Regions from separate parts of the Homo sapiens genome. Here regions 1, 2, 3 and 4 are each linked to region 5. The links come from fine-mapping of genetic effects on gene expression. A gene starts in region 5. Each other region holds a variant in brackets. All regions are shown on one strand. Distances are between the middles of the regions.

Region 1 (5,103 bases), 32 kb before region 5:
CCTGGGTGACAGAGTGAGACTCTGTCTCAATAAATAAATAAATAAATAAATAAATAAATAAATAAATAAATAAATAAATAAATAATGTAGGTATGGTGAAGCCCAACAGGTCAGGAATGACCATCACTAAAAAGATAGTTTATTACTCACAGTTCCTGAGAAGAGGGGGCACTCTATGCCACAAGGGACCACACAGGGAAGCATCAGGGTTGTTCAGGAGGCAGAGGGAGTGAGGGGAAACGGGCTAGAGGCTTTATTGTGGTTTTCTATGGTAAGGAATGGGCAAGGCAGGGGAAGCAGGTTTAGGGTTGGCTGGTTTGTCAGTAGGCTGTGGGATATGGATCCGCCCTGAGTTGTCTGGCACCTGGCCCTGGGGTGATTAGGGCAGGGGAGTGGTGGCCCAGAGTGTGAGAGCCTGATAAAGGGGGCGGTTGCGGGTGTGGGATCTGGATTGGTTGGTTTGCATTTGAAAGGTGTGCTTTGTAAGCTAGCCCAGGGAAGGGCAGCTAGCCCTGGGAGCTGGAGTCAGTAAGACCCCAGATGTCAAAACATCAGAATAAAAAGACATGCTTAATACAGTGCCTAACTCAAGTTCCCTGGCTAACCAACAGACACTAAAAGCCAGGGAGGGAATGCATCCTAGTTTGATCACCACCCATCCGATGCCCACGGTCAGGAGTAGCTTTCTCACTTCTGCCAAGAACTGAAGCTTCCCAGAATGGGGAGATGCCCCCCCACCCCGTTCCTCCACATCCAGAACAGAACTTCATCTAAATTAACAGAAAGGCAGGACTCATCTGGCTCCTCCCACCTCTCCAACCCCACTTCCCTTTGGCTCCACTGTTCCCCGCCCCACCACCCTCACCCCATTCCTGGAAGCCAGCAAGCCCCTCCCAACAAGGGCAGAGTCCTCTGAGTGAAGTCCTTTTCCCACTCCCTTTGCTTGGCTGCCTCCTCTCCACCCTCTGATTCTCAGCTCCAAGGCCCTCTCCAAGATCTGATCTTCACAGCCCTCCTTGTCTGCTCTCAGTTCCCCACTGCTTCTCTCTCTCAGACCTGAGTTTCTTTCCTTCATTCTATCATTCATAATCAGGAATGCCTCTGTGTGAGTCTTTAATTGTTACTCAACGATTGTCCGTTTTTCCCACCAGAATGTAATCCCAATAGGGCAGGAACTTGCTTAATATGAAGTCCCCAGAGCCTGACTAGAACAGTGCTTAACAGAATAAGCCATGGTTGAATGAACAATTGAATGAATTAATGAACAAGGGAGATGATTTTTAGGACACATGTGAAACTGGGGCTCTCAGTTCCTTGCTCCACAACACCCTTGCTCCTCTTGGCATATCCACTCTCTTCTCTCTCTTCCTTGCTCCACAACGCCCTTGCTCCTCTTGGCATATCCACTCTCTTCTCTCTCTTCCTCACCAGTTCCTTGTTGCCCTATAGTTTCTGCTCATTCCTCCATAGCTAACAGGCTTCCCTCTTTATGCTTCTTAATTCAATTTCTTTCTTTGAGACAGGGCCTTGCTCTGCCACCCAGGCAGGAATGCAGGGGCGCAATCACAGCTCAAACTCCTGGGCTCACGTGATTGTCCCACCTCAGCCTCCCGAGTAGCTGGGACTATAGGCACACATCACCATGCCTGGCTAATTATTTTTTTATTTTTTATTTTTTTGAGACAGAGTCTCACTCTGTCATCCAGGCTGGAGTGCAGTGGCGCAATCTCGGCTCACTGCAAGCTCCGCCTCCCAGGTTCACGCCCTTCTCCTGCCTCAGCCTCCTGAGTAGCTGGGACTACAGGCGCCCGCCACCACGCCCAGCTAATTTTTTGTATTTTTAGTAGAGACAGGGTTTCACCGTGTTAGCCAGGATGGTCTTGATCTCCTGACCTTGTGATCCACCCGCCTCGGCCTCCCAAAGTGCTGGGATTACAGGCATGAGCCACCGCGCCTGGCATGCCTGGCTAATTTTTTTTTTTTTTTTTTTTTTAGAAATGGGTGTCTTGCTATGTTGCCTAGGCTGGTCTCGAACTCTTGGCCTCAAGAGATCCTTCTGCCTTGGCCTCTCAAAGTGCTGGAATTGCAGGCGAGCCACCATACTTGTCTTTAATTTCATTTCTTTTTTTTTTTCAGACAGGGTCTTGCTCTGTTGCCCAGGCTGAAGTACAGTGGTGTGATCACAGCTCACTATAGCCTCAACCTCCTGGGCTCAAGTGATCCTCCCACCTCAGCCTCCTATGTAGCCAGGACCACAGGCATGTGCTGCCATGCCCAGCTAATTATTTTTTTGTAGAGATGGAGTCTCACTATGTTGCCCAGGCTGGTCTTGAACTTCTGGGCTCAAGCAATCCTCCCACCTTGACCTCCCAAACTGTTGGGATTAGAGGCATGAGCCATAGTGCCTGGCCTTAATTCAACTTCTTAAGAAAAAAAGTCTGACTGCCCCCATTCATATCATTGAGCCAAGTTACTGCAGAAGTCACTGCTTGGCCTTTGGATTGGCTGCTGTTGGGTCAGCTCTGATCTGAGAGC[A/C]GGTCCTTAGAGTACAGGTCACCCCAGCAAGGCTGAGAGCAAGAGGGTTTCTTTGGGAAGTGGGTGTGATTGGATCAGGCAAGACTTGATGTTTTCAGGCCCAGAGCCCAGAAGGGACACCCTGATTCTAGAATAACCATCCCTGAGTCTTGTGCTAGAGATGTTCTTCCATCTTTGTTTTACCAGATTGAAGCCTTCAGCTGACTGTGGCCCTTTTCGAGGTCTGCCTCTCTTCATTCACTCCATCTACAGCTGGATCGACACCCTAAGTACACGGCCTGGCTACCTGTGGGTTGTTTGGATCTATCGGAACCTCATTGGAAGTGTGCACTTCTTTTTCATCCTCACCCTCATTGTGCTGTGAGTGTGGTACCCGGGGAATCTAGCAGGGAAAGCCAGGAGCTCTCGAGGGAAACAGCAGTAGGGATGTTTGGTTGGAAAGCAAATGGCTATAGCATAGCTCAGTGTTCTGGGTGACTCTACCCTTGCATAGGTAGTTTTCTTTCCTTCCTTCCTTCCTTCCTTCCTTCCTTCCTTCCTTCCTTCCTTCCTTCCCTTCCTTTTTTTCTTTTCTCTTCTCTTCCCTTCCCCTCCCTCCCTCTCTTTCTCCCTTTCTCCCTTCCCTTTCCTTTCAGTTCCGTTCCTTTCCTCTTCATTTTTTCTTCCTTCCTTCCTTCCTTCTTTCTCCCTTCCCCTCCCTTCCCTTCCCCTTCTTTCTCCCTTCCCCTCCCTTCCCTTCCTTTCCCCTTCCCCTCCCTTCCCTTCCCTTCCCCTTCTCCTTCCTTCCTTCCTTCCTTACTTCTCTCTTTCTTTTTTGGTTGAGACAGGGTCATGATCTCTCACTCAGGCTAGACTGTAGCGGCATGGTCATGGCTTGCTGCAACCTCAACCTTTCAGGCTCAAGCCATCCTCCCACCTCAGCCCCCAAGTAGCTGGGCTTGCAGGTGTGCACCACTACACTTGGCTAATTTTTAAATTTTTTGGAGAAATGGGGTCTCCCTGTGTTGCCCAGGCTGGTCTCAAACTCCTGGCCTCAAATTATCCTCCTGCCTCAGCTTCTCAAAGTGTTGGGATTACAGGTGTTAGCCACCTTGCCCAAGCTTGCATTGATAGTTTTTTTGAAGTTACTTAGCCTGGTGCAGTGGCTTGTGCCTGTAGTCTGAGCTTCTTGGGAAGCTGAGATGGGAGGATTGCTTGAGCCTAGGAGTTTGAGGCTGCAGTGTTCTCTGATCGTGCCACTGCACTCCAGCCTGGGCAACAGAGCAAGACCCCATCACTGGGGGAAGGGGGGAAAGGTTATATATACTATCTTCTTGTCTTAGGGATTTTTTTTTTTTTTTTTTTTGAGACAGAGTCTCGCACTGTCACCCAGGCTGGAGTGCACTGGCGCGATCTCAGCACACTGCAAGTTCCGCCTCCTGGGTTCATGCCATTCTCCTGCCTCAGCCTCCCGAGTAGTTGGGACTACAGGCACCCACCACCACGCCCAGCTAATTTTTTGCATTTTTAATAGAGACAGGGTTTCACTGTGTTAGCCAGGATGATCTCGATCTCCTGACCTCAAGTGATCCGCCCGCCTTGGCCTCCCAAAGTGCTGGGATTCCAGGCATGAGCCACCGTGCTGGGTCATCTTAGGGACTTTTTTTTTAACTTATTCTATTAAGAAAGCAATACCTGCTTTTCTCCTCTTAAGGAGATGACATGCCCAGAGATGCTCAATTAATTGGTCTGAAGAGGAGCTGTGGCATGGGCTTATTTCCCCCTTCAGGAACCATTGTTCCAATGTATTTAACCTATAACTCTCCCTGACATGACTTTTCAGAAACATGTTTGGGCCAAATCCATCTGCAAGCACAGATTCCAGTTCCTTTGCATCCAGTGGAAATTCAGAGCCTGCAAAACATTTGCAAGAGTGTCATTCTTTCTTTTCTCCTCTTCCAGAATCATCACCTATCTTTACTGGCAGATCACAGAGGGAAGGAAGATTATGATAAGGCTGCTCCATGAGCAGATCATTAATGTAAGTCCCCTTGGATCCCTCTGATGTCCGCCCTCACCCTTTTTAAACGCTGTATAAACATCCTCCAAAATAAAGAGAATACTACAATGAACTCTCATATCCCTGCTCTCAGCCCTAACAACCATCAATGTTTTTATATTCTTATTTCATCTACACTTTCTCTTCCCAGCAAATCCCTTATTTTTATTCTTAGTATTTATTTATTTTAATTATGATGATTATTATTATTATTTTGAGATAGAGTTTTGCTCTTGTTGCCCAGGCTGGAGTGCAGTGGTGCAATCTCGGCTCACGGCAACTTCTGCCTCCAGGGTTCAAGCGATTCTCCTGCCCCAACCTCCCAAGTAGCTGGAATTACAGGTGCCTGCCACCATGCCCAGCTAATTTTTGAATTTTTAGTGGAGACAGGGTTTCACCATGTTGGCCAGGCTGGTCTCGAACTGCTGACCTCAGGTGATCCACCTGCCTCCCAAAGTGCTGGGATTACAGCCATCACACCCAGCCTTATTTTATTTTTTTAGAGGTGGGGGTCTTGCTATGTTGCCCTG
Region 2 (5,103 bases), 26 kb before region 5:
GGCTACTTTCTCAAGCCTGTTAGGGGAATTGCTTTAGAGGAGAATATTACAGTGCAGGAAGGCTCTGGGGGATAATTTGGTTTTACTGTGAAATGTTTCTTTTCTTTCACCAAAAGATGGCAGTAACCTCCATCCAACTTCTAGGATCCTAGCTGCCTGAAAACCGACGTTCTTCCCATCAATTGCTTTCTCAATTCCATACCATCATTCATTCATATTTTTGTTTCTTTCTGGTTTTGTTTTCCTTCTTGGTAGGAGGGCAAAGATAAAATGTTCCTGATAGAAAAATTGATCAAGCTGCAGGATATGGAGAAGAAAGCAAACCCCAGCTCACTTGTTCTGGAAAGGAGAGAGGTGGAGGTGAGTCTGGAGGCTGCCTTGGGGACCCCTGGGACACGAGCTTGCCTCCATGTAAAAAGCGCGTCAGAGAACTACAGACCAAGCTCTTGGGATCATGGAAGGGCCCTTCACTCTCTGTCTTAAGTATTTCTGTGGTTTTTACTTAAAAAGTAATATTCATGGCCAGGTGCAGTGGCTCACGCCTGTAATCCCAGCACTTTGGGAGGCCTACGCGGGTGGATCAAGAGGTCAGGAGTTTGAGACCAGCCTGGCCAATATGGTGAAACCCTGTCTCTACTAAAAATACAAAAGTTAGCTGGGTGTGGTGGCACGCACCTGTAGCCCCAGCTACTTGGGAGGCTGAGGCAGAAGAATTGCTTGAACCCAGGAGGTGGAGGTTGCGGTGAGCCAAAATCATGCCACTGCACTCCAGCCTAGGTGACAGAGTGGCACTCTGTCTCAAAAAAAAGTAATATTCATTTTTTCAGCACTTTTCATGCCTGTACTTTTTCTAGGTGCTGGGGTTACGGTGAACAAAACAAAGCCCCCGCCCTCATGGAACTTGCACGCTTGTTTTTCACAACCCCGATAATACAGAAGTAGATCCCACTGAGATGAAAAGGGCCCTGAAATCTCATCTCACTATGAATACTTCAGTGTCTATTCTTTTTTTTTTTTTTTTTTTTTGAGACGGAGTCTCGCTCTGTCGCCCAGGCTGGAGTGCAGTGGCGGGATCTCGGCGCACTGCAAGCTCCGCCTCCCGGGTTCACGCCATTCTCCTGCCTCAGCCTCCCAAGTAGCTGGGACTACAGGCGCCCGCCACTACGCCCGGCTAATTTTTTGTATTTTTAGTAGAGACGGGGTTTCACCGTTTTAGCCGGGATGGTCTCGATCTCCTGACCTCGTGATCCGCCCGCCTCGGCCTCCCAAAGTGCTGGGATTACAGGCGTGAGCCACCGCGCCCGGCCTACTTCAGTGTCTATTCTTGCAAATCTATTTCCCTAGGCATCTGCAAACATACCTGTATCTACCAACACTTTAATTTACTTGTTTATTACAAAAGTGAGGCTATATTATACAAATAGTATCATAACTTCCCTCCCCCGCAGCCCACCACTAAATACTATATCTTGAACGATGTTTAATTCTGTACATATTTGGATATTTGGGTTGTTTCTATGTTTTTAAATACTTAAAACAGTAGGTAATGAAACATTTTGTTACAATTATTTTTTGTGCGTTTATAATCGCAGCTACTCAGGAGGCTGAGGTGGGAGGGGAGGACTGCTTGAGGCCAGGAGTTTAAGACCAACATAGCGAGACCCCATCCCTTAAAAAATTTTAATAATTAGGCACGGTGGCATGCAACTGTAGCCTCAGCTACTCAGGAAGCTGAGGTGAGAGGACTGCTCAAACCCAGGAGTTTGAGGCTACAGTGAGCTATGATCCCATCACCGCACTCCAGCTTGGGAGACAGAACAAGACCCTCTCTCTAAAAAAAATTACCCTGGGCACAGTGGCTCCCTCCTGTGATCCCCAGCACTTTGGGAGGCCGAGGCGGGCTTATCACTTGAGGTCAGGGGTTCGAGACCAGCCCAGCAAACATGGTGAAACCCATCTCTAGTAAAAATATAAAAAACAAAAACAAACAAACAAGAAAACTTAGCTGGGTGTTGTGGTGCACATCTGTAATCCCAGCTACTTGGGAGGCTGAAGCACAGGAAATCACTTGGACCCAGGAGGTGGAGATTGCAGTGAGCCAAGGTCACACCATTGCACTCCAGCCTGGGCAACAGTGCAAGACTCCGTG[T/C]CAAAAAAAAAAAAAAATTAAAAAGTTATTTTTTGTGAATATTTCTGCCACAAAGCACGTACATGACAATGTTAATAGATATTGCTATATCATTCCCTTAAAAAGATTTAATCAATTTCATTCTTACCAAGAGAATATAAAGATACATGAAACCCTGCTCTAATTCCAAAGCCTTGCTTGCTTCCTGAGTGTCCTGAAAATACAGATGAACAGTAAATCCACCTTAACGCAAATACCACTTATGTTGGAAATTGTGATCTTGACAGAAGTGACTGACAAGTAATTTACCATCTGTGCAAATTTATACTGTCAGCACAATTTAGGTAAGGGATCTAGAGGCCTAAAGGTAGATTCTCTGAAGGTGAGGACCACGTCTGTGCACTTGTCACCCCACGTCCTAATTTATTACCTGGCATAATATGAATGCTCAGTGAATATCTGTGGAACGGCCAGGTGCGGTGGCTCACGCCTGTAATCCCAGCACTTTGGGAGGCCGAGGTGGACAGATCACTTGAGGTCAGGAGTTTGAGACCGGCCTGACCAACATGGTGAAACCCTGTCTCTACTAAAAATAAAAAAAAAAAATTAGCTGGGCGTGGTGGCAGGCACCTATAATCCCAGCTACTCCAGAGGCTGAGGCGGGAAAATCGCTGGAACCCGAGAGGCGGAGGTTGCAGTGAGCCGAGATCATGCCATTCCACTCCAGTCTAGGAGATAAAGCAAGACTCTGTCAAAAAAAAAAAAAAAAAAAAAAAAAAGAGTATCTGTGGAATGAATGAATGGAATCACTCTCCCTAAAAAACAAAACATGTTCAATATTTCTATGGCGGAGACTTGGCCTTAATCTCTCATCCCTTAACTTCTATAAAATGGTGAGGGGCTCACAAATTGTGCCAAATATGTGACAAGACCCAGAATCTGCATTCTTCCTCCGTGACGTGGCTGCTTGTTTTTTTCTTTTTCAGCAACAAGGCTTTTTGCATTTGGGGGAACATGATGGCAGTCTTGGTGAGTAATTAAACTGGGACAGAATAAGACACTAATTTATTTCTGGTGAAATATCCTAAGACAAGTGTAAGAATTGCTCATGTGTCCATTACTTTTTCAGTTGCAAATTGGATCCAAACTGGCTTAAACAAAATTCCAAGAATAATTCTTGCTTTAGGCCTTGCCTAACGCAGGAACTCACAGTGTCACCAGAACCCGGTTTCTTTCAGTTCCGTTCTTACCCATGTTAGTTCCTTTTGCAATAGACTCTGCCTAATAAGTGCAAGACAGCTTTATCAACTTCTTATATCTTCTCAGAGTCAGTCTGGTGGGAAAGACTGAGGGACCCAGGATTCTCACGGTGTTTCATAGGATCTGACTGGGTGATGTCCCCGTCTATGAACCAATTGTTGTGGGTGCAAAAATGTGGCAGTTCCCTTGATCACATGATTTCATCTGTAGATGCAGGTGGTGCAACCATGAAGACCATAGGGACCAAGAGTAGGGAAGGGTGACTTCCTAAAGAAAATCTGGGGCTGATGCCAGGAGAGCGAATTCTGGGCAGGAAACAAACAAGCAAACCCATTTATTTTTGGGGGATAGCATTTACTGATGACTTCCAGTGATGGGAGTTCAAGGGAAGGATTATAGAAACTAAAAGGAAGAGGCAAAGAAGGCATGAGAAGCTATGGAATCTTGAAGGCAAGCTGGTCTTTCCCTTGTAGAGATGGGGCAGAGTGTGCCTGCGTTAACTTCTCTTTCCTGTGTCAAACCTAGACTTGCGATCTAGAAGATCAGTTCAAGAAGGTAATCCAAGGGCCTGATGACTCTTTTGGTAACCAGACACCAATCAAATAAGGGGAGGAGACGAAAATGGAATGATTTCTTCCATGCCACCTGTGCCTTTAGGAACTGCCCAGAAGAAAATCCAAGGCTTTAGCCAGGAGCGGAAACTGACTACCATGTAATTATCAAAGTAAAATTGGGCATTCCATGCTATTTTTAATACCTGGATTGCTGATTTTTCAAGACAAAATACTTGGGGTTTTCCAATAAAGATTGTTGTAATATTGAAATGAGCCTACAAAAACCTAGGAAGAGATAACTAGGGAATAATGTATATTATCTTCAAGAAGTGTGTGCAGGAATGATTGGTTCTTAGAAATCTCTCCTGCCAGACTTCCCAGACCTGGCAAAGGTTTAGAAACTGTTGCTAAGAAAAGTGGTCCATCCTGAATAAACATGTAATACTCCAGCAGGGATATGAAGCCTCTGAATTGTAGAACCTGCATTTATTTGTGACTTTGAACTAAAGACATCCCCCATGTCCCAAAGGTGGAATACAACCAGAGGTCTCATCTCTGAACTTTCTTGCGTACTGATTACATGAGTCTTTGGAGTCGGGGATGGAGGAGGTTCTGCCCCTGTGAGGTGTTATACATGACCATCAAAGTCCTACGTCAAGCTAGCTTTGCAGTGGCAGTACCGTAGCCAATGAGATTTATCCGAGACGCGATTATTGCTAATTGGAAATTTTCCCAATACCCCACCGTGATGACTTGAAATATAATCAGCGCTGGCAATTTTTGACAGTCTCTACGGAGACTGAATAAGAAAAAAGAAAAGAAAAGAAATTAGCTGGGTGCGATGGCTTATGCCTGTAATCCCGGCACTTTGGGAGGCTGAGGCAAGCGGATCACTTAATGTCAGGAGTTCAAGACCAGCCTGGCCAACATGGTGAAACCCCGTCTCTACTAAAAATAAAAAAACTAGCTGGGCGTGGTGGTACATGCCTATAATCCCAGCTACTCGGGAGGCTGAGGCAGGAGAATTGCTTGAACCTGGGAGGCAGAGGTTGCAGTGAGGCGAGATTGTACCACTGCATTCCAGCCTGGGCAACAGTGAGACTCTGCCTCAAAAAAATAAATAAATAAATAAATAAAGTAAATTAAAAGTCTTATTCAAAC
Region 3 (5,103 bases), 140 kb before region 5:
CAAGATGACCATCAGGGATTATCATCTGGCAATGATGCCCGTGTCTGATCCCTTTCCATGTTGGATGGAGCTAAGCGATCTGTAGGATATTGCAAAAGTGGCAACATATAGCTTCCAAGCATAGATCATTAAAGATGTTGTGTCTTTCTCCTTGCTCTCTCTTGAGCTGCTCTCTTGGGGAAGTCAGCCATCCTGTTGTGAGGACGCTGAAGCAACCCTGTGGGAATATCAGTGTGGTGAGAAACTGAGGCCCCCAGCCAACAGCCATGCGCGTGAGCTGCCTTGGAAGCCTGACTTCACACATCCACCTGATGACTTCTGGAAGCCTGACTCCACGTGTCCACATCTGCTCCATCTCCTTCAGAACTAGGCTGTTGGCCAATGCCCCTGTTTGTGTCTTGCTATTTCACTTGGACTATGACTAGGATTCAGGGGGCAAAAATCACCAATTATGGTGAATTCATGTTTTAGTTGATGCAGCTCCCATCAGCAAGGGCTTTTGCCTTTTTTAATGAAAATACCCACCTGGCATGGTGGCTCACACCTGCACTTTGGGAGGCCGAGGCAGGTGTATCGCTTGAGCCCAGGAGTTCAAAACCAGCCTGGGAACATGGTGAAACCCTGTCTCTACTAAAAACAAACATTAGCCAGTCATGGTGGTGCACACCTGTAGTCCCAGGTACTAGGGAGGCTGAGGTAGCAGGATTGCTTGAGCCCAGGAGGTGGAGGCTGCAGTGGGCCATGAGCATGCCACTGCACTCCAGCCTGGGAGACTGAGCAAGACCATGTCTTAAAAAAAAAAAAGAAAAGAAAGAAAAGGAAAAAAGAAATACCCAAAGCCTGAGCTGACCTGGTGATTCTGCCACCCCTGCAATCCTGATTGAATAATGCAACCCAAATTGGTCATAAATTATTCTCATGTAATTTGAAATCATCTACCACAAGGAGAACAAACACAAAAACTGCATAATCTCACAGCTTGCTGATAAGAACAGAGGGCTTACCAGTGGCAGTGAGGGCTTGGTGCTTGCCCTTGAAAGTGGAGTTCTCATCTGGAATTTCTATAATAGACCCAGAGTCAACAGCCAGGTTCATGCCTGAGGGACCTCAAGGACCATACTGGTTGCTCTGTGAAATGACTACCCCTGGCTTTTGGGAGGTTTAGAGATGACTTGAGCTCTTCATAACTAAAAACATCCATGGCATTTGAGCCTCACCCAATCTCTCAACTTTGTCATTCCCTGGGGATTTAGGGTGCACCGTTGGCTGGGGAACCAGCTGGCTAAAGAGAGAGGCAGTGCACCTGAGACTGTACATGAGCCCGGGCACCTGAGACAGGGAATCTGAGACAGTACTCTCTGTACTTCTTTATCCTCCTCTATAAAGTGATTCTAATAATAGCATCTACCTCTGTAGAAGAAAAAATTATTCAATGGCACATGTTAAAATACGGTAAGGCAGATTTTTCAGGACCATCATGATAGGTATAGGGAACATAGTAATGAAATTTTGCAATGGGAGAGAGATTGGGCTCAGTCTTAAATGGCTGGCCGGCTAAGTGGCTGACTGGGAGGCTGGGTGAGGGGTAGGCTGGGAGGCTGGCCGAGTGGCTGTCTTGGAGGCTTGCCAGCAGGCTGGCTGGCCCGCTGAGATGCTGGTGGGCTGGCTGAGAAGCTGGTCGAGAGGCTAGCGGGCAGTCTTCCTGGCTGAGTGAGAGGCTGGCTGGCTGAGAGTCTGGCTGAGAGGCTAGCTGAGATGTCGGCTGGCTCCGTCTGGGTTGGATGAGGACACTTTGGAGGAGGGAGCAGGAATAAGGAAGATACCCTTACCACCTGCTATCCCCCAGAGCTGGGAGCACCCGGCGCTGAGGGTGGGAGGCGGCAGTGACCGGGCACAGCTTATAGCACCCGGCTCCCTCCGTGCACCCTCGGATGCCAGGAACACCTTCCCTATGAGCACTCCCCATGGCCCTACCGTGGTGGACTGCGGGCCGCAGTCTCTATCTTATCCTCAAAGGTTTTCTGTAGATCTAAAACTGTTCTAAAACAGAAAATTATGTGTGTGGGTAAGTAATTTCCTGGCTCAAAATAAAAGCTATTTTCATTGTGGTTAAGGGTAAGGTCACTGGATGAGAACCTGGTTTCCGATTATTTCCTGTGTGAGCTGGACCACATGCCACAACCTTTCTGAGCCTGTTTTCTCATCCATAAAATGAGGATATAAGACTAGAGCTTAGGTCTCAGGGCTGTGGCAAGAACAATTGCCTAGAGGCAGCCTATATTTCCATCGATAGGAGATGGATTAAATAAATTTTGACACATCTGTGCAGCAATTACCTCTATATGTAGATATATAGAAAATTATATTTATAGAAGGTTTATTATTATTATTATTAATATTCTGAGATGGAGTCTCTGTCGCACAGGCTGGAGTGCAGTGGCGCAATCTCGGCTCTCTGCAAGCTCCACCTACGGAGTTCACGCCATTCTCCTGCCTCAGCCTCCCGAGTAGCTGGGACTACAGGCGCCCGCCACCACAC[C/T]GGCTAATTTTTTGTATTTTTGGTAGAGACGGGGTTTCACCATGTTAGCCAGCATGGTCTCGATCTCCTGACCTCGTGATTCGTTGGCCTCGGCCTCCCAAAGTGCTGGGATTACAGGTGTGAGCCACTGCGCCCAGCCTATAGAAGGTATATTATGAAGTGAAAAAGCAAGGTGGAAGCTAGACATAGTGGCTCATGCCTATAACCCCAGAATTTTTGGAGGCTGAGGCAGGAGGTTCGTCTGAGTCCAGGAGTTTAAGACCAGCCTGGGCAACATAGCAAGACACCCATCTCTACAAACAATAAAAAAGTAAAAATTAGCCAGGGATGGTGGCACATGCTTGCAGTCCTGGCTACTCAGGAGTCTAAGGAAGGAGGATTGCTAAGCCCAGGATTTCAAGGTTACAGTGAGCCATGCTCATGACACTGCACTCCAGCATGGGTGACAGAGTGAGACACTGTCTCAAAAACAAAACAAAACAAAACAAAACAAAACAAGATGCCAGGTAAGCCACCTTTGGGGTTAAAAAACCAAGAATATATGTGTATATGTTTGTAAATGCATCATACATCTCAGGACAAGGGCAGGGAAAATTTTACTGATTACCCCTTTTTTTTACTAAATAGACATATTACTAATACATGCTCAAATTTTAAAAAATGATCTTTAAGTCTGTGGCACAGAGGAAGTGTCAGGAAATGATGGCTATTTCTATTGTGAGACAATTCCTCCCTCTTCCCTTCCTTACTGGAGGCCACCTCCCCACCCCCAGTCCCAGCCTGCAGATCTGGAAAGGGATGGGTGGAACCCAGTTGTTCCACGTATGGAAGATGGAATGTGATGGAGGCGAGTGGTGACTGTGCAGTGACCTTAGAGAGAAGACCCAGCACTTCCTGCTGGCTGCACCTGGCACCTGGCACCTGGCACCTGGCCCTGACTTGGATCTGCACCTGAGCCAGGGAGACCTCAGTTTTTTTCTTCCAGGAGCAGAAGAATGAACCAGGTTCCTGAAGGAGACTTCCCACTCCCAGAAGAGGAACAATTTTACAGGAATAGAAATTGGATAGTTCTTCAGGAAACAACAGTCTCTTAAATCTCCTGTTTGAAGGAATAGAAGACGACCATTTAGGAGGATGTCTTTGTTCTCAGGAGGTACCTAGAAAAGTAGCTGGGATTGAGGTAGGCTAAAAGATGTCTCCCGAAGATTTCAGACCCTAATCTAAAAAAAAAAGTGTGAACATTACTATGTAGTGAAGAATTACTTTACTCACAGAGAGGTCTATCCCTTTGCCTCCAGCTCCTGGGGGGTGATCTCTAAGCCCCTGAGATGGACATCTTTATTTACCTGGATCCTTGGGTGACATCAGATAATTTAGCAATGTGATTTATGGTGGAGCTTTGTGAATTAGCCAACAAATGTATGATAATTTGTTGCAGCAGTCACAAGAAACGAATACAGGAATGCAGTTTCAAAAAGTCTGTAATTAACTCTCATATGGCTCAGAGAGAAGTAGGAAGAAGCAAGTCTGGTAAAATGTGAACAATTAGTGAACTTACATAAAAGGAATGTGGTTGTCTATTGTACTGTTCTTGCAAATTTTTGTTGGTTTGAAAATTTTCAGAATAAAAGATGGAGGAAGGAATAAAAATACTCATTTAAAACATTACAGTATAGGCCGGGTATGGTGGCTCATGCCCGTAATCAACATTTTGGGAGGCTGAGGCAAGAGGATCGTTTGAGGCCAGGAGTTTGAGACTAGCCTGGCCAACATGGCAAAACCCTGTCTCTACTAAACATGCGAAAATTATCTGGGTGCGATGGCACACAACTGTAACCCGAGCTACTCAGGAGGCTGAGGCAGGAGAATCTCTTGAACCCAGGAGGTGGAGGTTGCAGTGAGCTGTGATCACACTACTGCACTCCAGCCTGGATGACAGAGTGAGACCCTGTCTCTAACAATAATAAAAATAAAATAAAATAAAACAAAACAGCATGGAAAAGTCCAGGATCTTCAAATATTGCTGGAGTATTACTGCCAAGCCCAATGTAGTCAGAAGTAGGATTTGAACATTTAAATGCATCCTTTGCTGATTGGACAGAATGTAACCTTTAAAAATTATTTTCCTTCTTATACAAACAGCAGGGTTCCTTCTTCATCACTGAAGAATAAGATGGCATGCTTCAGACCACAGCATCAATGCCCATGCCAGGTAGCTTCACTTTGTGGTTCCTGGGTGATGGCTCTGTGTTCCCATCCAAATCTCATACTGAATTGTAATCCCCAGTGTTGGAAGTGGGGCCTGGTGGGAGATGATTGGATCATGGGGGTGGTTTCTAATGGTTTATCATCATCCTTCTAGTGGTGTCTTGTGACAGAGTTCTCCTGAGATCTTCTTGTTTAAAAGTGTGTAGCACTTCCCCTAAGCCTCTCTCCTCCTCCTTCTCCTGCCATGCAGATGTGCCTGCTTCCCCTTTGCCTTCTGCCATGATTGTAAGTTTCCTGAGGCCTCCCCAGCCATGCATCCTGTACAGACTGTGGAACTGTGAGCCAATTAAACCTCT
Region 4 (5,103 bases), 78 kb before region 5:
CCGGGTTCAAGCGATTCTCCTACCTCAGTCTCCTGAGTAGCTGGGATTACAGGCATGCGCCACCACGCCCAGCTAATTTTGTATCTTTAGTAGAGACAGGGTTTCTCCACGTTGGTCAGGCTGGTCTCAAACTCCCAATCTGAGGTGATCCACCTGCCTCAGCCTCCCAAAGTGCTGGGATTACAGGCGTGAGCCACTGCACCTGGCCTAAGGCCATTTTTAAGTAGCAAGTCCAGTTTTTCCAGGTTTAGATTCTGTAGATCTAAATTTTGTCTAAAAGATTTTGATCTTCTGTCAATTTTTGTTCCTTGACAAATTTTACCAAATGCAGTTCTGGACACCGACAGCATTAGTCTGGGTTACTTAGTTCTACCAAATCTAATTTTTCCTGGGTTAAGATTTTTCATGTTCACGTTGCCAACAAAATGTAATTTTTTTTTTTTTTTTTTTTTGAGACAGCGTCTCACTCTGTCATCCAGGTTGGAGTGCAGTGGCTCAGTTTTGGCTCACTGCAACCTCCATCTCTTAGGTTCAAGTGATTCTCCTGCCTCAGCCTCCCAAGTAGCTGGGATTACAGGCATGCACCACCATGCCCAGCTAGTTTTTGTAGTTTTAGTACAGACAGGGTTTCACCATGTTGGCCAGGCTGGTCTTGAGCTACTGACCTCAAATGATCTGCTTGCCTCGGCCTCTCAAAATGCTGGGATTACAGGCATGAGCCACTGTGCCCAGTCTAAGATGTGATTTTTTAAAGTCAGTTTGTGGTTTAATCAGTAACAATGTTTGTCATGTGAAGTTGTAACCAATATGAGTTTGATTTTGCATTTACTGTTTCTACTAGTAATATTTATGAATTTGATAAAAAACTGGTGGCTTGTATTTATCTCTAGGAACAAGGATATAGGACTTGGGCGTGCAGCAGTCCTGATGTCTTTAGAACCCAAATAGTAGGGTTAACAGGACCAGGTGAAAATGTCCTCCTTGGTCTTATCACCCACTGCCTGATTCATCATTCCAAAGCCCACCTTTGATCCTATCACTCCTTTGCTTTTCATCGTCCATGGGTCCCCATAACCTTTGGAGAAAGGCCACCCAACTTCACTTATAGAATGTTTATGAATAAGGATACGTCGTGTTAATGTAAGATGCCAGCCAAAGACCAGCCTGACTGATCTCCTCTTAAGTCTCCTGTCTGCCCCCTGCCTTGACCTTATACTCTAGGTCAGTGGTTCTTGACTTTGGCTGATCCTTAGCATTACCCAGTTATCTGGGGAACTTTAAAAATAATACAGATGCCTCAGTCAAACCTTCAGAACTTCTGATTCAATTCTCCAGGACAAGGCTTGGGAAGTGGTATATGTAGTAAATTGAGAATCATTACTCATCAGTTGATTTTCATAGCATTTCCTTTATATATTCAGCACTTTCTGGCCTCACACCTTTTTTTATGCTGTTCTTCATCCTTGGAATGCCCTCCCTTTATGTATGAATGTGTCTTCTCAATCCCTGCTCAGATGTATCTTTTCCATGCAGATTTCTCCCAAAACTCTCAGCAAGAATTATCTTTCCTCCGAACTCCTTGGGCCTGTCTTCAGATACTCACCAGTTTCTACTTGTAGTATAATTGCTCATAGCTGTGTCTAAGAAGCTGTACCAACTTGTACTGTGAGCTTCTTGAGGGCAGGTACCCCATGTTTTCCTCTTTGTATTCTCACCTTCTAGCCCATGCCTAACTCAGGGTTGGCATTTAGTCTGCATTTGTGGAATGGAATGGAATGGATGGATGGATGAATACATTAATGAATGGATGGATACATGGATGGATAGATGAATACATGGACGGATAGATGGATGGATGAATGTATGTATGGTTGGATGGATGGATGGTAAATGGATGGATGGATAAATGGATGGATGAATACATGAATGAATGGATGGGTACATGGATGGATGGATGAACAGATGAATCAATGGATGGATGAATGGATGGATGGATGGATAAATGGATGGATAAATACATGATTGAATGGATGGATACATGGATGGATGGATGGATGGATGGATAAATGGATGGATAAATAAATGGATGAATACATGATTGAATGGATGGATGGATGGATGGATGGATGGATGACAATCCTTACTATACTCTTGGTTGGATAGTGATCCATCATTTTGGATTTTAGGGTGCTCAGCAGAACATCTTCAATCCAGCCCTCATTTCGTCACAGGAGTGATGACCCCGTGGGCAGTCTTTGGGGAGAGAATGATTACCCTGAAGGCATTGAAATGGCATCCATGGAGATGGCAAACTCATATGGCCACTCTCTGCCAGGTGCTCCTGGAAGTGGCTATGGTAAGCATTTGTTAAGCCAGGATCATATCCTGGGAAAAAACTGAAATCACTGGATTTAGGGGTGCAATCATTAAGGAGACTTGGCAATAGGAGAATTGGTGTATCCTTCCAATCTCAGAGACCCTT[G/T]TTTTTACATACAAAAGTTGAGAATTCAGTGTTTAGAGAAGCCAAGTTAATTGTCATCAATTATAAAAAAAATGCTAGGTAAGAGTTGTGGAAAATGGGGACCTGTGCACTCTGTTCCTACCAGAGTTGGTGAAGCTCAGTCCATGGTGGTTATGTGGCAATGTGGGCTCAATGTGGCAAGATCTTCATATTTTTCAGAAGCCGTGTATTTGGGGTTTTATGTGAAACCTGATGTTGATCTGTTCCAAAATAATTTTTAAAAGTAAAAACAGTGAGCTGGGCAAACAAAACCACATTTTTTGTTAGCTGCCAGTGGCCACCTGTAGTTTAGCATATCCTAAAGGCATTCAGGCAATCAGCACGTATGTGTTCAGAACCTACTGGGGGAAAAGGGAGTTAAGAGGTAGCTCTGCCCTCATGTTATTTAAAGCCTAAATAGGTCAACAAAAGTGCCACATCAAGACTAAAGAAAAGGCTGGGTGTGGTGGCTCACGCCTGTAATCCCAGCACTTGGGAGGTCGAGGCGGGCAGATCACCTGAGGTCAGGAGTTCGAGACCAGCCTGGCCAACATGGTGAAACCCCGTCTCTACTAAAAATACAAAAATTAGCCAGGCATAGTGGAGGGCACCTGTAATGCCATACTCGGGAGGCTAAGGCAGAAGAATCACTTGAACCCAGGAGGCGGAGGTTGCAGTGAGCCAAGATCGCACCACTGTACTCCAGCCTGGGCAGTAGAGCGAGACTCTGTTAAAAACAAACAAAAAAAAGACTAAAGAAAGTTAGCAAGCAAACTATTAATATTTGAAAAATCATGTTGTCCTCATAATTTGTTGTGTGTATAGATAAGATGCTTAGCTCCAGGAGGCAAAGGAAATTCTAAACAGTTTTTTTTTTTTTTAAGACAGTGTCCTGCTCTGTCACCCAGGCTGATCATAGCTCACTGCAGCCTCAAACTCCTAGGCTCAAGCAATCCTCCCACCTCAGCCTACCCAGTAGCAGGGACTACAGTTGCATGCCACCATGCCTGGCACTTTTTTTATGCTTGAGAAAGATGGGGTCTTGCTATGTTGCCTGGGCTGGCCTTGAACTCCTGGCTTCAAGCAATCCTCCAGTCTCGGCCTCCCAAAGTGCTGGGATTACAGGCTTGAGCCTGGGCCAATTCTGAACAGTTCTTACTTTCTAGGAGGAAAAAGAGACATGTTCCAGGAAGCCGTTTGATGGCACAAGAGAAAAAAAAAATCCAGGCCATGTTAAAGGAATTTGGAACCTGTGGAAGTCAGAAAAGGGAGAAGGTGTTCAGCCAATAAGAAGAGAACAAGAGACCCAAGTGCTGGGAGGTGCAGATGGAGGATTGATGAGCCTTGAGGAGTAGATGGGGCAGGTCTGGAAGAAGGCAGAGAGGAGGGGACAGGATGCATAGCCATGTACTAATGAAAACACTGACTGTTAACACATAGAAAATTTTCATTCCGGGCCTAATTTTAAAAATTAGCTGGGCGTGGTGGCACACACCTGGGGTCCCAGCTACTTGGGAGATTGACACAGGAGGATCACTTGAGCCTGGGAGGTTGAGGCTGCCGTGAGCCATGACTGTACCACTGCACTCTGGCCTGAGTGACAAAGCGAGACCCTGTCGCAAAAAAAGAAAGGACCGGACAGGACAGGACAGGAAAGGAAGGGAGTGGAGGGGAGGGGAGGGGAGGGGAAGAGTTGGGGGGAGGTGGAGGGGGAGAGAGGGAAGGAAGGAAGGAAGGGAGGAAGGAAGGAAAAAGAAAAGAGAATATTCCTTTGGGAGCACAGACATCAGATAGCCCAGGGCTATTCCAAACCTTTATTCCAAGCATTCCTCCACAGGGGCAATAGAAATCCCAAGGGGGGAATATCTGCTCTTGAAAGGCCAGAAAAAAATCTCACTCTTGATGTATAAAGCAGGGATACACATGTAGTACACAAACGGATACAGTATATCTTTGGTATTAAAACTTCTTAGAGGACGGCAATGAGGAAAAAATGTCTCCCCTGCTTAAGGGGCTGATAATGAAACAAGATTGAGACATACTGTGCTACTCCAGTGCAAGTGGAACGTATAACTGCAAGCAAATCTTGAGTGTTTCCTATGCCCTGGAGTCTCTGTCCAGCACTTGACTTTTATTATCTCATTTAATCTGTACAACTGCCTTTCAGGCAGGCACTGCCACTCTCCCTGTTTTAACAGATGGGAAAACTAAGACTTAGAAAGAAATATGCACAAGGTCACTCACTTACTAAATTGACAGAGCCAGGATTGAATCCCGTCTCTCTACCCAAAACCTGACCTCTTATTTACCCTGCATTACTGCTAGGTTGAATCAGGGCAAATACAAACAGATTCCTGACCACAAAGCTCTATAGAACATTGGAAGATAAAATACTTAAAAAACAAAAAAAGCAGGTCAGTATAGCTCACTTCTCTGGGATCTTTTGTAGGGCAAAGTTTGCAGCCCTTGGCAATCACTTGTCCAGTGTCACCCCATCCTGATAAAGTGTTCACTCCTTAAGGAGAACCTGTATTCATCTATGTACCCTCCAAGGCTCTAGGTGCTCTTCCTAGTGTCACAGTGCCTGGCCCACAGTAGGTGCC
Region 5 (5,103 bases):
TAAACATAACTTTTATATGCACTGGGAAACCAAAAAATTTGTGACTCCCTTTATTACTATATTTGCTTTATTGACTATTTACTCAGGTCTGGAACTGAACTTGCAATATCTCCTATATATACTAATATGTGAATTAGAACCAGGGATTCATCTTTTTATCTCAATTACTGGAATAACATAGAAGTACTGGTAAAGCTGGCCAGGCAGTGGCTCATGCCTGTGATCCCAGCACTTTGCCTGTAATCCCAGCACTCTGTAATCCACTGAGGCAGGTGGATCACTTGAGGTCAGGAGTTTGAGACCAGCCTTGCCAACATGGCAAAACACCATCTCTACTAAAAACAAAAAACAAAAATTAGCTGGGAGTGGAGGAGTACATCTGTAATCTTAGCTACTTGGGAGCCTGAGGCACAAGAATCGCTTCAACCTGGGAGGTGGAAGTTGCAGTGAGTTGAGATCGCCCCACTGCACTCAAACCTGGGTGACAGAGAGAGACCCTGTCTCAAAAATAAATAAATAAATAAAATTATTGGTAAAGTCGAATGTATACATACATATATACATTTCTGACAGTGCTAGAATTTCTGGTAGATTATAAATGAGATATAGAAGGAAAAACTTGATAAATGTGAGTTGAGTGTATTCCAAAAACAGATACACTACTATAAACAGTGGCAAAGGAATGAAATTACACCCACAGTACATTCTCCACATGGGCCAGAGTGCAGCTTTAAAAGTATAAATCTTGGCCGGGCACGGTGGCTCATGCCTGTAATCGCAGCTACTCGGGAGGTTGAGGCAGTAGAATCACTTGAACCTGGGATACAGAGGTTGCAGTGAGCTGGGGTTGCGCCGATGCACTGTAGCCTGGGAGACAGTGAGACTTCGTTTAAAAAAAAAGAAAAAAAAAAAGAAAAAAAAAGGAAATGAGGGAGGCCAGGCATGATGGCTCATGCCTGTAATCCTAGTACCTTGGGAGGCCGAGGCGGGTGGATCACTTTGAGGCCAGGAGTTTGAGACCAGTCTGGCCAACATAGCAGAACCCCATCTCTACTAAAAATACAAAAATTAGCTGGGCGTGGTGGCACACGCCTGTAATCCCAGCTACTCCGGAGGCTGAGGCACGAGAATCGCTTGAACACGGGAGGCAGGGGTTGCAGTGCGTGGAGATTGCACCACTGCCCTCCAGCCTGGGTAAAAGAGTGAGACTCTGTAAAGTAAAAAAAAAAAAAAGAAGAAGAAGGAAGGAAGAAGAGAGAGAAAAATAAAAAAGAAGAGAATCAGATATATTTACACAGATGCAAAAGTGCCTAATCCACTGAAAAGCCCTCTCTGTAAGCTGTCATTATTATGAAGCTAGGAGAATGCCAAGAGCTGGGAGGTATCAAAAGTTTCAGGAGTGCCTTGTGAAAAGGAGGGGGCAGAAACTGATGTGAGTCCAGCTGCCAGGGTTGTGCGAGTGCGAATGTGTGTGTCTGGGGAAAAGGTGATAAGGAAATGACTCAAGTGATTTACAAGACAAGCAAACGTATGTCTTGTGAAGGGTGATCTATTTAGACTAACCTCAATTACTGACCAAGAACCTATTTGACCTGACCCATTTTCTACTTCATTCACACACCAGTCTTTGTTCTCTTCCTTGAAGTCAGGCCACACACTGCCTCTTCTGTTACCTGAACACCCCTATATTATTCCCATCTCAGGACCTTCTGCACCTGCCTGGCTCCTTATAATTCCGGTTTCTGTTCAAATGTTGCTTCTTCGGAGACGATTTCTCTTGACTATTCCATCTAAATAAAATAGCGTAACTCTTTCCTTCGAGTTCCCCCGATTTCTTCATTGCACCTTTCACTCTCTTAAAGTTATCTCATTTATGTGTTTACTTGTTTAAGGCTTGCCTCCCCCATTCCGATGTACACTCTGTAAACCAGGGACACTTTTGACCTTGTTCCTGGCTGTATGTAACCTTAGCGTCAGGCGCACAGAAACTATATACATATCTGCTGTCTTCTGTAAATATAAAACCTCAAGTCCGGAGATCCCTAGACACTGGGAGCGATCAAGGGCCGGGAGTGTGCCTTGTGGACGAATGAGGAAGTGGGAAGGCCGTCCTGAGAAGATCGGGGAACCCTGGGAAGGAAAAGTAGAAGTCCGAGCTCTCGGGAGGACCGAGGGGCGCGAACGTGGGGGTCTCACCTGCCGAATGGCCGCCAGCGTGTTCTCGGGCGCGTCGTGGCTGCCGCCACGGTGGGCGATGGCAGAAATGCGGTCCCGGGGCTTGAGCACCTGCAGGGCCCTGCAAGAGGGCACCGGCTCAAAGCTGAAGACGCGCAGTAGAACGAAGAGGCTGCCGGTGAGGAGGCAGGCATTGACCGGGCTCCGCGTCACCAGCAGCAGCACTAGCAGCAGGAAGGAGAAAGGGCCCAGGAGGCCGCCCTGGTCCTCCCACAGCCACATGCCGGCGCCCGCACCGGCACGGACGGGAGTCCCGGACCCGCCGGGCTCCTGGGGCAGTAGAACGAGAAGCGAGGGGGAGGGTCCAAGGCACCGGCAGCAGCAGGAACCCTCTGAGGGGACCAGCGCCGCACAATGGCGGCAGCAGACACATCCAGAGAGGGAGTCGGCCGCCCAGCCAATCAGGGATCGGGATTCGCAGCGCCAGTGGGCGGAGCCGCTCCATGGCAACGGGGGAGGGCCCAGGCCCCAGGCCCCAGGCTCACGTTCCAAATCTAAGGTGGGTTAGGGTTTTCCGAGGTCTGAACTTCAACCTGGGCGTTCAGACTCCTAGGCGAGAAAAGGAGGGATAAGAACCATCCTAAAGCTGTAGGACTGGAAGGGATTTTAGTGACTCCTTTATCTGCCCTTGAGGAAACTGAATTCCAGGGAACCTGGAGAGGCAGGATGCTTAGACTATCAATTCAATTCAATTCAATTCAGTTCAGTTCAGTTCAATTCAAGATGTGCCAAATACCGGTCCAGGTGCTCCGGACACAGTTGAACAGGACCTACAGGGTTTTTGCTCTTATGGGATTCACATTCTTGTGGGAGGAAATAAAAGTTAGCAAGTACACCTAACGTTTACAGAGCACTTACCATGTCCCAGGTACTTGACGAGCAAACACTTTATATGCTTATCTCATTCTCAATACAGCCTAACAGTTACTATCAGGAGACTGATTTCAATCGACTTTATTTTCCAGATTCTGGGGGACTGGAAGAGCCTAGCAAAGAAGGCACAATCGGATTATAAAACTGGAAGGGGTTTTAAGGATTCCCTTATTTCATAGATGCGGAAACTGAGGATAGGTGAATTAAGCAGTTAATGGCAGGGTGGGGACTGACATAAAGGCCTCCCCAGTGATTTGTGACATTTTCACTCCTCCTCCCCCTAATCTTACTTCTGCTAAGGGCTTTTGTACCAGGCACTGTACAGGAGTTACCTCAACTGTGCCTCACAACCACCCTTGTGATAGGCACTTTTAAAACCCCCATTTTACATATGCAAAAACAGGCACTGGAAGGAGGGTAAGAGAGATAGACCATGAAGCCGAGTTAGGGAGTGAAAAGGGGCCCCTGGACATATTTTGGAGGGCTGGTAACATTTTTATGTAGAGAACTTTGCAAAAATATTCAGGGATTTTTCTGTTACCTTTTTTTCCTTTAGTGCATTTTCCCACTGATTTGCAAAAGGGGATAGATGTCTTAAGCCTTCCAGTTGGCATCTAGGATTCAGCCTTTTTTTTTTTTTCTTTCAGACAGTCTCACTCTATCGCCCAGGTTGGAATGCAGTGGTGCAATCATGGCTCACTGCAACGTCGACCTCCTGGGCTCAAGCGATCTTCCGACCTCAGCCTCCCGAGTAGCTGGGATCACAGGCTCGCGCCACCCCACCCGGCTAACGTTTAAAATTTTTGTAGAGATGCCGTCTCCCTTTGTTGCCCAGGCTGATCTCGAACTCCTGGGCTCAAGCGATCCTTCCGCCTCGGCTTCCAAAATGTTGGAATTATAGGCGTAAGCCATCACGCCCGGTGGGTTCAGCAAGTTTTTACCTACAAGAAAATATTTTGGTGAATGTTACATGTTTTCTAACGGCTGCATAGAAAGGGGTTATCTTTATACAGATAAGAAAAAAATGGCAACTTCAAGGAACACTTCAGGGGGCTTCAGACCCTGAGGGGTGTTCCTATTCTACTAAATAAGTAAATTTATTAATAAATTCTAGTCTCTAGCTTGCAAGGAAGACTACGTTTCCCGGCGTGCAGCGTGCTGGCCGTAAGCATTACGTCCTCCATCGCGGGCGCGCAATGCACCTCGGGGATGGTAGTGTTCTGGTGGCCCAACGGTTTTAACAGCCCGGGAATCAACCACCGGAAGTGCCGGCCCTGAGAGGTGGAGTCGGGGTGGCAGCGGCGGCGGTTGCCAGGAGCCCGCGTTGCAGCCTGAGATCCGTAATATGGCGGGGAGGAGGAGGAGAAGGCGGCGGCGGACCGAGCTGCGCTCTGTCAGTACCATTTGAGCCATTCGCTTCCTGACAAGGCCCGTGGCGAGGGGAGAGGAGCTGAAGGGGCCGTGGGGGATCAGGTGTGTGCATGAGGAGGGGGCTTGAGCCTTGACGGGTCCGGGCTGAGAGGTGGTCTGGCGAGGCGAAATTGGCGCCCTGAGAAGCTGAGGGCGGGCTCTGTGCTGGGCTCCCGGGCCTCGAGCCCCCTGGAAAGGCGCCGGCTGTTGGGAGGCGGGACCCCGGGGGCAGCCAGCACCGGGCGCTGAGGTGATGCTCCGATGCTGGCCCCGCCTGGAGGGCCCTCGGTTTGGAGTCTTAAATCGGAGGAGCTGGAGGAGGTGGGCATGGGGCGCTGGGGAGAGGGCAGGGGGCCGTCCCTGGTGAATAAAACTCGGGCCAGAGCCGGAGAACCCCATCGTGGTGATCAAATTGTTTGGGCCGTTTTTCTTCTCCCTCCCACGGTGCTGGAGAGGGAGGCTTCCCCGGGGTGTGCATTGGCCATTTATGAGCCCCTGTTTCCACAACCAAGGCCCTAGGAGCGCTGCTTACTTCGCCTTTGCCACTCTGGGGCATAAACTTGAGGATAATAAAGTAATCGATTG

Evidence for each region.
Region 1: its variant is fine-mapped to the expression of GDE1 in lung (TOPMed, PIP above 0.99).
Region 2: its variant is fine-mapped to the expression of GDE1 in whole blood (TOPMed, PIP above 0.99).
Region 3: its variant is fine-mapped to the expression of GDE1 in whole blood (TOPMed, PIP above 0.99).
Region 4: its variant is fine-mapped to the expression of GDE1 in whole blood (INTERVAL, PIP above 0.99).

Annotation. Positions count from the first base shown.
Region 1 is chr16:19,487,674-19,492,776 of GRCh38, forward strand. TMC5 (transmembrane channel like 5) reads left to right here. Exons shown (of 22, transcript NM_001261841.2): 18 at 2,722-2,895; 19 at 4,477-4,555. TMC5-AS1 (TMC5 antisense RNA 1) reads right to left here and starts at 228. Exons shown (of 3, transcript XR_007065016.1): 1 at 151-228. RefSeq lists an enhancer at 335-1,023. The variant A/C (reference allele first, on the strand shown) is at 2,536.
Region 2 is chr16:19,494,007-19,499,109 of GRCh38, forward strand. TMC5 (transmembrane channel like 5) reads left to right here. Exons shown (of 22, transcript NM_001261841.2): 20 at 256-360; 21 at 3,115-3,157; 22 at 3,914-5,103. The coding sequence ends at 3,960. It also overlaps the pseudogene RNU4-46P. Among named protein-coding and RNA genes, the nearest start is that of TMC5-AS1, 8.7 kb to the left of the region's middle. RefSeq lists a silencer at 2,504-2,715. The variant T/C (reference allele first, on the strand shown) is at 2,150.
Region 3 is chr16:19,381,458-19,386,560 of GRCh38, forward strand. The region is part of intron 1 of LOC105371114 (a long non-coding RNA gene); the gene reads right to left. Among named protein-coding and RNA genes, the nearest start is that of TMC5, 34 kb to the right of the region's middle. The variant C/T (reference allele first, on the strand shown) is at 2,540.
Region 4 is chr16:19,441,895-19,446,997 of GRCh38, forward strand. It overlaps TMC5 (transmembrane channel like 5), which reads left to right. Exons shown (of 22, transcript NM_001261841.2): 4 at 2,187-2,356. Among named protein-coding and RNA genes, the nearest start is that of TMC5, 27 kb to the left of the region's middle. The variant G/T (reference allele first, on the strand shown) is at 2,483.
Region 5 is chr16:19,519,508-19,524,610 of GRCh38, forward strand. GDE1 (glycerophosphodiester phosphodiesterase 1) reads right to left here and starts at 2,591. Exons shown (of 6, transcript NM_016641.4): 1 at 2,197-2,591. The coding sequence starts at 2,457. CCP110 (centriolar coiled-coil protein 110) reads left to right here and starts at 4,435. Exons shown (of 14, transcript NM_001323572.2): 1 at 4,435-4,581. RefSeq lists enhancers at 1,873-1,932, 2,058-2,792, 2,103-2,272 and a silencer at 2,383-2,552.